Linked DNA regions of Homo sapiens. The main gene of each other region encodes a partner of the protein of the gene in region 2 in a complex. Each region holds a gene or a part of one and is shown on either strand. Other genes may lie near its edges.

Region 1 (7,736 bases), on a different chromosome or scaffold from region 2:
GGACAAGTCTCAGGACCTCTCTGGACTTCCCAAATCCCTGCGGTAAGATGACAGGGAATCTCCATGCGGCCCTGAGCCTCTGTAAGAGGCGCATCACAGAGAAGCCACCAGGCCTCTCCCCAAAAGCCAAGTGAGTCAGTGGGAACAAGTGAATTTCTGAGCCGTGTGACTGGCACGACCCACGTCACCCCGGGAGGTTGTCCGAGGAAAGCTCTGCTCTCTCTTCCCCATGGCCCGCCTGGGCACTGCCCTTCTCCCTCCTCGAAACTCTCCTTGCCTCAGTGCCCCCAACCCGGGGTGTACCCCCAACCCCTCCAGCATGGCCCAAGTTCATCTCAGGCTTGTGAGGTTGGAGCAACTTGTCTTGCAGGAGGGCTCATGGGACCAAATCTAGCCTCTGCCTGAGAGCCCCCCGCCTCAGTTTTCTCATCTATAAAATGAGGTCGGGCTGGGTACAGGGACTCACACCTGTAATCCCAATACTTTGGGAGGCTGAGACAGGAGGATCACTTGAGTTTGAGACCAGCTTGGCCAACATGGTGAAACCCTGTTTCTACTAGAAATACAAAAATTAGCCAGGCGTGGAGGTGCAAGCCTGTAATTCCAGCTACTTGGGAGGCTGAGGCATGAGAATCACTTGAACTCAGGAGGCAGTGAGTTGCAGTGAGCTGAGATCACGCCAGTGCACTCCAGCATGGGAGACAGAGTGAGACTCCATCTCAAAATAATAATAATAATAATAATAAATTAAATAAATGAATAAATAAAATGGGATCAGGCTGGGCGTGGTGGCTGACGCCTGTAATCTCAACACTGGGAGGCCGAGACAGGAGGATCGCTTGAGGCCAGGAGTTCGAGACCAGCATGGACGATGTAACAAGGCCCTGTCTCTACAAAAAAATGAAAAAATTAGGCAGGCGCAGTGGCACATGCCTGTGGTTCCAGCTACTTGGGACACTGAGGCAAGAGAATTGCTTGAGCCCAGGAGTTGGAAGCTGCAGTGAGCCAAGATCACACCACTGAACTCCAGCCTGGGTGACAGAGCAAGACCCCATCTCTAAAAACAAAAAATGAAATTTAACAAACAGTCATGTGTCTGCCCCCAGACTGAATACATCCTGCGCTGTTGGCCGGGTGCGGTAGTTCACACCTGTAATCCCAACACTTTGGGAGGCTGAGGCGGGCAAATCATCTGAGGTCAGGAGTTCAAGACCAGCCTGGCCAACATGGTGAAACCCTGTCTCTACTAAAAATAAAAAATTAGGCCAGGCACGGTGGCTCACACCTGTAATCCCAGCACTTTGGGAGGCCGAGGCAGGCAGATCACAAAGTCAGGAGATTGAGACCATCCTGGCTAACATGGCGAAACCCCGTCTCTACTAAAAATACAAAAAATTAGCCGGTCGTGGTGGCAGGCGCCTCTAGTCTCAGCTACTCGGGAGGCTGAGGCAGGAGAATGGCATGTACCCGGGAGGTGGAGCTTGCAGTGAGCCAAGATTGCACCACTGCACTCCCAGCCTGGGAGACAGAGCAAGACTGTCTCCAAAAAATAAAAAATAAATAAAAAATAAAAAATTAGCCAGGTGTGGTAGCACGTGCCTGTAGTCCCCAGCTACTTGGAAGGGTAAGGCAGGAGAACTGCTTGAACCTGGGAGGTGGAGGTTGCAGTGAGCCGAGATCACGCCACTGCACTCCAGCCTGGACAACAGAGTGAGACTCCGTTTAAAAAAATTCTGTGCTCTCTCTCTGTCTCTGTCTCCCTTTGTGTCTCTGTCTCGCTCTCACTTTCACTCTCCCATCCAGGTTCTGAAAGCAGGTGGGCTGAGGTGGAGGGAGCGGAGGGTGGACCCTCTGAGGCCCCCAGGGGCCGGCAGGGCTGGGCGGGGTGGGGAGTGGGGGCTGCCACAGACCACGGTTCTGCAGAGGCCAAAATAGCACTAAAGGGAAGTGGGCAGTTTTCATATGAACAACGATTGCCAAGAGCTGGCTTCGGGGAAGTTCTCGGGGCTGGGCTGGAGGAGCTACAGTGTCTGAATCCCGCCTGGAAGGACGCTCGAGACCACCCTGCCGGTTCTCCCAGCCTTCTCCGAGCTGAGCTGTGGTTGGGGACACTGGGGTTGGGGAGGGGGCAGCCTGGCTTGAAGCCCTGGATGGCTTTATCCACTGGACTCTGCTCTGGGGTCTGTTGGTTTTTTCATTTAGTTTTTAATTATATTTTTTTATTTTTATTTTTTAAAGAGATGGGAGTCTCACTATGTTGCTCAGGCTGGTCTCCAGCTCCTGACTTCAAATGATCCTCCCGCCTTGGCCTCCCCAAATGCTGGGATTACAGGTTGAGCCACCGTGCCCGGCTGGTCCTGTTGCTTTTTCCAAATAACTCTGGGCTTCAAATGAGCCTAGCTGGGAGGGAGAGAGGGAGGCGGGCGGGTGCAGGAGGGGCCTGAGCAGCCCTGGTCCCAGGGACAGAGTTGAGGGCCAGGTAGGGGGCTGGGCAGGGAGGCAGTGGGGGTTCTTCACCTGACCTGGGGCAAGACCTGGGCCCTGGCCTGTAATCCCACCGTTTTCCCCTGACCTGTGTAGGGGGTTACAGTCCCATTTCACGGATGAGGAAACCGAGGCTCCCAGGCCAGGGCAGCCACTGTTTTGGCTCTCGGCCACTTACTTCACCAGTCTCTGGCAATGATGGGACCACCCTGGGATGTCCCAAGGCTACACAGGCTGGACAGGGGAAGGCGAGGGCAAGAGAGTGGCCAGAAGCCCAGAAACAAACTGACCCCTGAAGTGCCACAGAGCCTGGTGCCAGGGTGAGAGTGGGGCTGCGGGAGGGGGCGCCAGGCATCCAGGCCTCTTCCCACCCCACCCAGTGGGGCCAGGAGCTCCTGGGGGATGGGGGACAGCCTGAGGACTGAGGCACCCCTGGGAAAGGCTTACCTGAGAGTCCAGGGTTCCTCACCACGGCCGCCCCATCCTGAGCCCGCACACCTGCCCAAGCTGATGCCAACACCACTGACACTGGCGGGCGGGCAGGGCGGGCTTCCTGCCAGCCACTGAATCATCCGTACATCCGCCGCACTGCCGGACAGGCTCAGCTATGAAGAGGGCGGTGGGGGGAAGGGAGGGGAGACGGGGGAAGGAGGCGGGAGAGAGAGAGAGAAGAGAAACAAAGTGAGAGGGAGAAAGAGAAGAAAGAGAGATAGGACCGGGCGAGGTGGCTCACACCTGTAATCCAAAAACTTTGGGAGGCCGAGGCGGGTGGATCACGTAAGGTCAAGAGTTTAAGACCAGCCTGGCCAACATGGTGAAACCCCGTCTCTATTAAAAATACAAAATTAGCTGGGCATGGTGGCATGTGTCTGTAATTCCAGCTACTCGGGAGGCTGAGGCAGGAGAATCGTTTGAACCTCAGAAGCAGAGGTTGCAGTGAGCCGAGATCGCACCACTGCACTCCAGCCTGGGTGACAGAGGGAGACTCCGTCTCAAAAAACAGAAAGAAAAAGAGAGAGACACAGCAGAGAGACACAAGAGAACAGGAAAATATGGACACACACTAAACACACACATAAACACAAAAAGTCACACAGAGAGGAAGAGAGATACACTCCAATAGACAGGGAGCAAGATAATGAAACTGAGGTGCTCCTGCAGATGGCAGATATGGAGACACACATACGCTAAAAAGACACACACAGGCAGAAATTCACACCCATGGGCCGGGCGCGGTGGCTCATGCCTGTAATCCCAGCACTTTGGGAGGCCAAGGCAGGCAGGTCATGAAGTCAGGGGTTCAAAACCAGCCTGACCAACATGGTGAAACCCCATATCTACCAAAAATACAAAAATTATCTGGGTGTGGTGGCGGGTGCCTGTAATCCCAGCTACTCGGGAGGCTGAGGCAGGAGAATTGCTTGAACCCAGGAGGTGGAGGTTGCAGTGAGCCAAGATAGCGCCACTGCACTCCAGCCTGGGTGACAGAGCAAGACTTCATCTCAAAAAAAAAAAAAAAAAGAAGAAGACACACACAGGCAGAAATTCATACCCATGGGCCAGGCACGGTGGCTCATGCCTGTAATCCCAACACTTTGGGAGGCTGAAGCAGGAGAATCACCTGAGGTCTGGAGTTCAAGACCAGCCTGGCCAACATGGTGAAACCCCATCTCTACAAAAAATTTAAAAATTAGCTGGGCATGAGATGGACCAAGACACACACAGAGAGACACACAGAAAGATACAGAGAGCCACAGACTGTCAGAGACACACACAGATGGGGAGAGAGCAAGAAACAGGGAGATAGAGGCCAGGTGCAGTGGCTTGCACCTGCAATCCTAACATTTTTGGAGGCTGAGGCAGGAGGATCGCTTGAGAACAGGAATTTGAGACCAGCCTGGACAACAGAACGAGACCCCATCTCTAAAAAAATTTTTTTAATTAGCTGGGTGTGGTGGCACACACCTGTAGTCCCAGTGTTTTGGGAGGCCAAAACGGGAGGATTTCTTGAGCCCAAGAGTTGGAGGCTGCAGTGAGCCGTGACTCTGCCACTGCACTCCAGCCTGGGGGACAGCAAGACCCTGTCTGTCTGTAAAAACAATAAATAGGCCGGGCGTGGTGGCTCACATCTGTAATCCCAGCACTTTGGGAGGCCAAGGCAGGTGGATCACCTTATTTAGGTCGGGAGTTTGAGACCAGCCTGGCCAAAATGGTGAAACCCCATCTCTACTAAAAATACAAAAATTTGCCGGGTGTGATGGTGGGTGCCTGTAATCCCAGCTACTTGGGAGGCTGAGGCAGGAGAATCACTTGAGCCCAGAAGGCGGAGTTTGCAGTGAGCCAAGATCGTGCCACTGCACTACAGCCTGGACAACAGAGCGAGACTCCATCTCAAAAAAACAAAACAAAAACAAAAAAACCCAAAAAACACAACAAAAAAATTTAAAATAATAATAATTATTATTTAATTAATAGCTCAATGGCCTTGGGCAGCTGTTTAATGGTCAATAGCACAAGGCAGTCCACCCACTTGTGGGATGTGGCTTTATTGACCTCAGGTGCCAGAGCATCCTGGCCTCCACAGGGAACTATCTCACTCGGTCCTCATGTCTGTGTGGATGGCAGCCACGGTGTCCACCCCAGGGCTGGGCACAGGAGCACCGCTGGGCAGGAGTGGGCTGTGGTCCCTCTGCCTGTGCTATGAGCCGTTCTCTGCACCCCGATGCCAGGAGCCTCATCTGTGCAGTGGGGTGATGAGACCCCCAAGGCTGGGGTGGAGCAGGGCTCTCCTTCCTTCTCCCACCCTTTAGCGCCCTCGCTGTCTGCAGCCTCTGACACTCGTGCCGTCCACTCCTCCACCTGTCTTTGGTCACTTGTTCCATCTGCCCTGCCCTCGTGGCCTCTGCAGGGGTCTCTCTGTCCCTGCCCTGCCCACCTACATCCCGCATCCTTTGTCTCTGTGTCCATCTGTCTCATCCTCTGGGACTCTTGCTGTCTGACCCTCTGTCTCTATTCCTCGCCTGCTTTTTTTTTTTTTTTTTGAGACAGGGTCTCACTCGGTCCAGAGGTGAAGCTGAATTTGAACCCAGACCCCAAAGCCTGGCTTCCTCACTGGGACCCCCTGACTGGCTCCTCCTCACACAATGGGAACAAGCCTGCAACAGTTTCCCTTCAGCCCCAGACTGTGCACCTGGATAGAGGTTACCTGCTGTTCTTTCCCCTTTTTTAAAATTTTTTTTGAGATGGGGTCTCACCCGGTCACTCAGGCTGGAGTGCAGTGGTGCAATCTCAGCTCACTGCAACCTCTGCCTCCCAGGCTCAAACGATCCTCCCACCTCAGCCTCCAGAGTTAGCTGGAACCCCAGGTGCATGCCACCACGCCCAGCTAATTTTTGTATTTTTTTTTTTTTGTAGAGACAAGGTCTCACTATGTTGCCCAGGCTGGTCTTGAACTCCTGGCCTTAAGCGATCCTCCATCCTCAGCCTCCCAAAGTGCAGGGATTACAGGCGTGAGGCCACCGCGCCTGGTCCCATTGAACCCGGTGTTTATCCCACCTGCTGGAGACACCAGGGAAGAGCATGACGGTCCCCCACCTCCTATATGTCTGGCATTTCAGAACCTTGGCCCCCAGTCCTGGACGCCTCTAGGCCTGGGACCCTGGCTCTGGGGTCCCACTCTCAGCTTGGGGCTAGGTTTCTCTTTTAGCCTTGGCCGCGGTGTCCCGGCCTGGCCAGAAAGAGGTGGCCGCGGAGACGAGCGGCTAGGCCCGCTGCTGCCACCTCGTGGACAAGGAGGGTAGCACATGCTCCAGAGACCGGTTCTGAGAGATTCTGCAGGCGTCCGTGTCAGGAGCTCACCCTGCCTCCCTCTGTGGCCGGACTAGGACTGAAGCTAGGGCCATCAGACGCCCAGACCTGTGCCTGTGCGAGCAACCGCCACCCTCCCTTGTTCCATCCAGCAATGCCAAGTGCACTGGATTCAGGACCACGTTTCCTTCCCACGGTAACCGGTAAGAAGACAGAGGCTCACAGAGGTGAAGCTGGATTTGAACCCAGAGGCCAAAGCCTGGCTTCCTTGCTGGGACCCCCTGACTGGCTCCTCCTCACACAATGGGAACAAACCTGCATCTGTTTCCCTCCAGCCCCAGACTATGCACCTGGACAGGACTTACCTGCTGTTCTTTTTCTTTCTTTTTTTCTCATTTTTTTTTTTTAGATGGGGTCTTGCTTGGTCACCCAGGCTGGAGAGCGGTGCGGCGATCTCGGCTCACTGCAAACTCTGCCTCCCGGGTTCAAGCAATTCTCCTGCTTCAGCCTCCTGAGTAGTTGGGATTACATACACCTGCCACCACGCCCGGCTAATTTTTTGTACTTTTAGTACAGACGGGGTTTCACTATGTTGGCCAGGCTGGTCTCAAACTCCTGGATTCAAGTAATCTGCCTGCTCGGCCTCCCAGAGTGCCGGGATTACACTGCACCCAGTCTGTTCTGGTTTTTGTTTTTTGTTTGTTTGTTTTTGTTTTTTTTTGACAGGGTCTTGCTCTGTCACCTATGCTGGAGTGCAGCGGCAAGATCATAGCTCACTGCAGCCTCCAACTCTCGGGCTCAAGTGATCCTTCCACCTCTGCCTCGCCTGTAGGTGGGACTACAGGTGCAGGCCACTGTGCTTGGCTCATTTTAAAACTTTGTAGTGATGGGGTCTCACTGTGTTGCCCAGGCTGTTCTTGAATGCCTGGGTTCAAGTGATCCTCCCACCTTAGCCTCCCAAAGTGCTGGGATTACAGGCATGAGCCATCGCACCCAGCCTACCTGCTCTGTTCTAGCTCCCTGCTTCCTTCACGGGCCTGGGCACTGGTAGGTGCTGGAGGGAAATGGTCTGTGAAAGGACCTCATATGCAAAACGATCTTACAGACAGAAGCGTGGTCTTTTTTTTTTTTTTTTTTTTTGAGATGGAGTCTCATTCTGTCACCCGGGCTGGAGTGCAGTAGCATGATCTCGGCTCACCTCTGCCTCTGCCTCCTGGGTTCCAGCGATTCTCCTGCCTCAGCCTCCCTAGTAGCTGGGATCACAGGCACCTACCACCACACCCAGCTAATATTTGTATTTTTAGTAGAGACTGGGTTTCACTATGTTGGCCAGGCTGGTCTCGAACTCCTGACCTCAGGTGATCCACCTGCCTCAGTTTCCCAAAGTGTTGGGATTACAGGCGTGAGCTACGGCACCCAGCCAATAAGTCTGGTCTTGCACAGCT
Region 2 (7,071 bases):
GTGGCTTAACTCTATCAATAGTAATAAAAAATTTACTCATAATAAAGATTGTATTGGATTCATACCAGCCATTGATAAGCTATAAGTATTTCACACAATGGTTAAAATTAAAGTTGTATTCTTCAGGTATGAGTTGCAAAAATAAATGTATTCAATTAAAATATCTTAGAAATATACTACCGCAAATTATAATGCATATGGCAATAAATCATCAGTAAGTATTAAGCAAAACAAAGGTCAGAAATGTGGAAGTACTGGAGCAGGGTTGGTTGATTTGATTGATTCAGTACTAATAAATGGATAGAAAAGTATTTTAGAGATCCTCAATTATTGTAAAAAATGTGGATTTTTACTCAGATGACCTTATAACATAGAGGAGTCAATACAGCACTGAGATTTTGGTTTATATGAGTTAAATCTTATACTTCACCCAAAGTTGTTAAGTTATATTTGCCATAAAACCTGATTTGTAACAATCTTCTGTGACACAGATGCTACTGATGGCTGTAATGTTGGGCTCCAATAGTTTAATAGTAACATGATTGTTCTACAAGGCAACACAAGAATCATATGTCAACCAATGGTCACATATATCAGAAAAAAGGAAACTCCTGTCACAATGGAAGCTAATAATTCTCCAAACTAGAATCATATTTTTTAGCTAGAAGCTATTCAGTAAATATATGATATTGCAATCTACTTATAACCAACCCCTACTTCAACACAATCTTTCCTTTGGAAAAACTGTTTCTTGTTGATACTCAATGTATACAAATAACTACAACAGGACAAATACTATAAGAAAGAAATCGTGCAAAGTGCTTTGGGAAAGCAGAAATGAGAGTAATAACTTTTTTTTTTGTGGGGGTGAAGAAAGCTTCAGGAAATTAGGAGATGTTCAGAATTAAGGATAGATTCAGCCTGGGTCTTGAAGGACGAGTAGGACATTACCATATAAACAAAGAGAAGGAGGGGCATCTAAGCAGAGTACAGTGACTGAAAAGGTATGAGGAGACAGGGAAGATCATAGGGTATTCAGGCAACTGAGACTAAATGAAATTACCAGAGCAAAGGGTATTTTGAGGAGTTATTATTTAAAAGGGGCCCTGCTATAAAGGACCAACGTGCCATGCTTGAGCCCATTGTTGGTATTCAATAAGTATTTAGTGTTCAATAAAAAATATTTAAAAAGGAATCTCAAAAGCAATGAGAATCCTTTAAAGTCTTTTCAGTAGGGGAATATCTTGATTAGGTTGAATATTAAATGAATCAAAGAAGAAAAAGAGTGGAAACTAGGAGACTACTTAAAAGCCTTTTGCAGCTCTTCAAACAATAAGTCATGTAGTCCATCGCCTCCTTGTATAGGTGAGGAAGCTATGATACCAGAGAAGTCAAGTGGTTTGTTCAAGGTCTCAAGAGCTGGTTAGTAGCAAAATTAGTTTATGCCCTATGTCCAAACATATTTTCTACTATATTTCCTTACCTACAAATTTATTCTTCACTGCCTAAGACTTGAGGTATCTGTAAGAGGATTTCCATTGTAATGGTGCAGTGGTGCAATGACACTAGTCATTGCAGACAGGACTAACTTGTTAATATTGTTTAAGCAAGATTTTTGCATTTTGTAGTCTTTTTCAGGGAGATATAATTTGATTCTTGGTATATTAAGAATGAATTTGACGAACAAATCAGCAGACCAAAGTAACTTACTGTGTCTGATTAGCTGTTTTTAAATTGTTGCTTATATTTTAAAGGCAAAAAAAAAACTAAGTGCTTATTTAACAACAACAAAAAATCCCCTTTACATTTTTTTAGAGGTATTATTTTCTCTCACCTATGAAACTTTCTGACCATAAAGTCAGTGCGTAATCACTGATGATTCCCAGCATTCTTTCTTTATCCTTGCTTCTTTTCATTTTTCAATTCTTAATCCCTCCTTTCACTTCCCCCCTGTATTACAACAACTAACAGCTGCCAAGAAAGTGGATTAGGTCATATATTCAATCAGGAGGTTTTCCTGTTATTCAAGTCACTTTCTTAGTATACCGAAACTAAAAAATAGTTATGGTTTTTGCCTCAAAAAATTCAGTTGGACTTATATTTTATTATTTGAAGGTTGGGTAGCAAGAAGCAGGTCTAAACTTACAAAAGCAAAGCAGTCATTTTGGATCTTCAACTCCCTATTTCTGTCTTGAGCTGTTTTCATTTTGATAATACATCTGAACACTCTTCTCTAACTTACTGATAATCAGTCCGTATTGTTCTACCTCACTTTGTAGACAATTTGTCATCCCATATCTACAGCTGCAGGATCAGTGGGACCCATACTGGTGGAGAAAACCATGCAGTCTCTCCATTAGGAAAGGAGAATCAGACTGAAGACTCCTGACTTGCTTTGATTTCTAATAATAGGCTGGTCTCACTGGGCCCAGGCTGTTCTAAATCTAGAGTAGTTCTGAAATACTGAGTGTGAAATAGGCAATGGTAGAAATTCTTAGGACCCCTGTAAGACAAATCAAAATTCCTTCTAGTATTCTTTTCTCCCATCATTTCCTGCACTGTGCTACGCCAAATCCAATCTCTTAAGGACCATTTCCTACATGCAACCATTGAGTGCACTTTGGCCCCAGTATAGCTTTATAAATCTCACTAGATAACTGTGGGAAGTCCATCCATGAATCATAGTATCAATGGTCTGCAGCTCAGAAAGCACAAAAGAACAAAATAAAAGTTTGAAAACTTACAGCTTTCTCTGCCAGATATTTTTTTGCCAAATATCTTAGACTCCTTTGTGTTGCTGTAACAGAATGCCACAGACTGGTAATTTATAATGAACAGAAATGTATTTCGCTCATGGTTCTGGAGTCTGGAAGTCAAAGAACATGGCCAGCATCTGATGAGGACCTTCATGCAGCATCATTCCATGGCAGAAGATAGAAGAGCAAGAGAGGATGATAGCATGTGAGAAAGTGCCAAACTTGATTTTATAAAAAACCCACTTCCAGGCCAGGTGCAATGGCTCACACATGTAATCCCAGCACTTTGGGAGGCCACAGCAGGAGAATCGCTTGAGCCCAAGAGTTTGAGACCAACCTGGGCAACATAGGGAGATACTGTCTATACAAAAAATGAAAAAGTTAGCTAGGAGTGGTGGCGCGTGCCTTGTAGTCCCAGCTACTTAGGAGGCTGATGTGTGAGGATTGTTTGAGCCTGAGAGGTCAAGGCTGCAGTGAGCTGTGATTGCACCAGTGTATTCCAGCCTGGGCAACAGAGCAAGACCCTGCCTCTGAAAAAAGAGAAAGAAACCCACTCCCACAGCATTAATTAATTCATTCATTCATGAGGGCAGAGGCCTCATGACTTAATCACCTTCTAAAAGTCCCATTTCTAAACACTGTTGCATTGGGGATTAAGTTTCTAACACATAAGTTTTGGAGGACACATTCAAAACATAGCACTAAATATTCATTGGGAACTCATGTACTTGGAATATCTACTGGCAAAAAAAAAAAAAAAAGAAAGAAAGAAAAAAGAAAAAAATTCCATATTCCGTGTTCCCATAATTGTGGTTTATATTTAGTGAAGCATCAAATGAGCATGAGATACAACTATTTTTTTTATTTACACAAAACTTGACCCTAAAATATTTAACCAACAGAAGTAGTACTAATAAAATTATTCTATGAAGTAATTTTTAATGAAGCTGAGTTTATTCAAGTCATGTCTTCTGCAAATAAAAATGGACACCAATAAACAAAAACAAAGATAGAAAGAATAACTGTGTTCTTGATATCTCCCCTAAAGTTCACAATCTCTACACCTGTTTCTTTCATCTTCTGGTGATGTTAATCTTCTGTTTATTTTGCGCTTTAAATCTAAGCACATGTGGATTACCCAGAGATTGCCCTCTGAAAGTCAGTCTACACCTGTTCTTTCTTACCTCACAAAAAGTAATGGAAAAAAAAGTGTGTGTGTGTGTGTGTGCGTCTGTGTGTGTGTGTGTCCTGTTGGTGGTAGTGTTGGTGGTTAAAAAGCAATTTGGGACTTCCTCTTTGAACAGTTGCCTTTTCCTCTCACAGAAGGAAGATTTCATTTTGTTTGAGACGAGAAACCAAACCACACACCAAAGAGAGGGGTATGATGGCTAAGAAGCCCCCAAAACCAGCCCCTCGCAGGATCTTCCAGGAAAGGTTAAAGATTACTGCTCTACCTTTGTACTTTGAAGGTTTTTTATTAATCAAGCGGTCAGGATACCGGGTGAGTCTATAGATGATAATGTTAAACCTAAGACTTCTGTTTTAATTTAATATTTATTTCATGGTGATGTGATGTGTTAAGACCTCCTTGTTTCTGTTGAAATTAAATCATCTTCTCTTCTTTGAGCTCAGAAAAATGATTCCAATTTTTCATAATTTAAATACAATGTCTGGCTTAAACCTGTATGTATACACATATATAATATGTATAATAACAGAGGTTGTAATATTAAGGCACTAATATAAAAAAGTCAATAAGCTAAATTTCCAAAGAATTTATTTAAATATCACAAAAGATTTTGGCTTGGGAGATAAAATGTTTCTTGTATTTTCTCCACAATTTATTGCTATGCTTCAATGATGACATGTACCATTAAGATAAAATGATATCATGATTAAAATTAAACCTGCTCCTGTTCTGAGTCATTTGAAGTTTATAATGATCAAATTATTAAAAATGGCTTTTGTAAAAATTGTTAAAATGACAAAGTTCATACTGTTTAACATTATATATAGTTATGTGTTCTAAAATACTATTCAAGATAGTGACTTTTAATTTTTGGGGTACTACTGTGGGTATTAAGTACACTAAGCTACATAAATACCTTTGCTCTAAGAAAATCCATGAAGCATTCTGTATTTTTAAATGTAATAATTAAAACTTATAGTTAGTTAAAATCATTACTTTTAAAACAGTAATTATGGATGACTTGAAATTAATTAGAGAAATAAGCCCAAAATTGCCTGTTATTAAATAAAAAAATCATTAAGTTAGGTCAAATTTTATGAAATTGTATACTGACTAAAACTAGAAAAATTTTAAGGTTTTCAGAAATTCCATCAGAAATGTTTAATGATGCTAAAATATATTTTCTGAGGATTTATGAATACTTGTGGAAAAATTATATATATGAAAAATCTATAATAGCATATTCACATTTCTTACATATATAATCAGATCATTTACTATTTGAGAGTAAAGACATGGTAATTTGTATTCTGTTATGGATGTTAAACATGCATAAATAATTACCTTTCAGTTATATTAGAATTTTTTAGATTGATCCTATATGCTTTTAATGTAAATTCAATCTTGTCACCACAGGTAAGCCACATAGTCACACTTTGCCAGGAAAGGGAAGTTGAGAAAAAAAAATTCTAATTAGTAATTTAAATCAGGTTGTTCATTGAATGTTTTCCAAGGTATTTATAATAACTGTTTATGATAGCAGTTTTTTTTAAATGCTTAAAGAAGACATGTCATTGGTATGGTTAGCAGAAAGAATAAGAATTTTAGAGTGTCCTTTATCTGATGGTTTTGCCACTTATAGCTTGTGATCTTGTGCAAGTTACTCAATCTCCTTGAGACTGTTTCAACTATAAGATAGAGAGTATACTACTTGCTACTTGCCTCCTAAGGTACATTCTAGGATTCAGTAGGTGTTCAATCAATTTATTCACTCAACATTTATTGTGTGCCTCCTATGCACCAAGCATCACTCATTTCTGGAGAATATGGAAAAAAACACAAAGATTTTATTTTCAAGAGGCTTAATATAGTAGGAATGATGTCTTCCTTACCAAATTTCTACTCTTTACCTTCTCTTAGAAAGCATTCTTTGAAGCAGAATGAATACCTATAGGCATAAATATTTCCAATGAAATTAACTTGTGTTTCTATTTGAATTTATAGTAAAGTATCTTTGTGTGTGTGGGTGTGTGTCTGTGTGTGTGTGTGTGTGTGTGACAGTGTCTCCTCTGTTGCCCAAGCTGGAGTGCAATGGTGCAATCACTAGTCATGCAGCCTTGACATCCCCGGCTCCGGTGATTCTCCTGCCTCAGCCTCCTGAGTAGCTGGGACTACAAGCGCATACCACACCCGGCTAACGTTTGTATTGTTTATAGAGACAGGGTTTCATCACGTTGTTCAGGTTGGTCTCAAACTCCTGGGCTCAAGCAACCTGCCCACCTTGGCCTCCCAATGTGCTAGAATTACAGGCATGGGCCTCTGAGTTAGACCACTAAGTACCTTTTACTTGTATGTCAGGGAGAAGAGAGCAAGAGGATGACAATAATACCTACTTATGTGGTGGTTTCAGGGATTAAAGGGATAGCATATGTAAAACACCTGGCTCACACTAAAGGTTAGATTCATTCTCTTACCCTTTCATCACTTATCATACTCTTATTCAGGTACTAAAATTAGTTTGAGGTCTGCAAGTAATATGACTCCAAGGAGAGTGAGCATGGTGATAATTAGAGTACTTGAAAATAGAAGCTATGAGAAAAATCTAAGCAAAATAAGTGGAATTTCCAAGCAATTGGCAGCAAAGTGCCAGGGAATCTTTGAACAGAAGGTGAGCCAAAGGTATATAGCCAAGTAATCTTTGGAGCTGATTGGCTAGAGGAAGGTGAGAGGCTCTGCAGAATGTAAAGTTGGGTCTCTGCCAAAGTCATTCAGAACATTTAAACTAGAAAAAATATAACTGAAGAGTAACCTGGTCTATAAAGGCATGAAATGCTGAGAGGTGCTTCTTAGCTATTTTTTGTGGGGCACTTTTAAGTATTTAAAGAGCTTTTCCCCAGGAAAATGTAACAACGTATACCATTTTGCATGCAATTCTAGAAGGTTTCTAAATCTGAGGTCAAGAACCCATGAAAAACACATAATCTTTATGGAAAAGATAATGTGGGAAGATTTATTTAAGCCACAGCACTAGGATTCTGAATTAACCAGGAAGATGTGTTTATTATCAAAGCTGTTAAATGCCACAGTGGAATACCATTGGCATCGCAGTTCTTACAAATGGGAAAA

Evidence for each region.
Region 1: the proteins of STAP1 (region 2) and LAT2 are in contact, whole or in part, in a crystal structure (PDB 3MAZ), measured with the Homo sapiens proteins. Residues at the interface, in NP_001304698.1 of Homo sapiens: Arg184, Arg203, Pro204, Gly205, Ser206, Ser212, Ile215, Gln217, Ile219, Lys225, His226, Tyr227, Lys228, Glu239, Leu240, Glu241, Tyr255, Phe256, Glu259, Thr260, Arg261, Asn263, Leu264; in NP_054865.2 of Homo sapiens: Asn134, Ser135, Tyr136, Glu137, Asn138, Val139, Leu140, Ile141, Lys143.

The regions. Positions count from the first base shown.
Region 1 is NC_000007.14:74,205,284-74,213,019, reverse strand, and holds the start of LAT2 (linker for activation of T-cells family member 2), read right to left. Parts: upstream 3,015-7,736; 5' UTR 2,932-3,014; intron 1-2,931. UniProt on the Homo sapiens protein: Involved in FCER1 (high affinity immunoglobulin epsilon receptor)-mediated signaling in mast cells.
Region 2 is NC_000004.12:67,554,673-67,561,743, forward strand, and holds the start of STAP1 (signal-transducing adaptor protein 1), read left to right. Parts: upstream 1-4,054; 5' UTR 4,055-4,137; coding exon 4,138-4,257; intron 4,258-7,071. UniProt on the Homo sapiens protein: In BCR signaling, appears to function as a docking protein acting downstream of TEC and participates in a positive feedback loop by increasing the activity of TEC.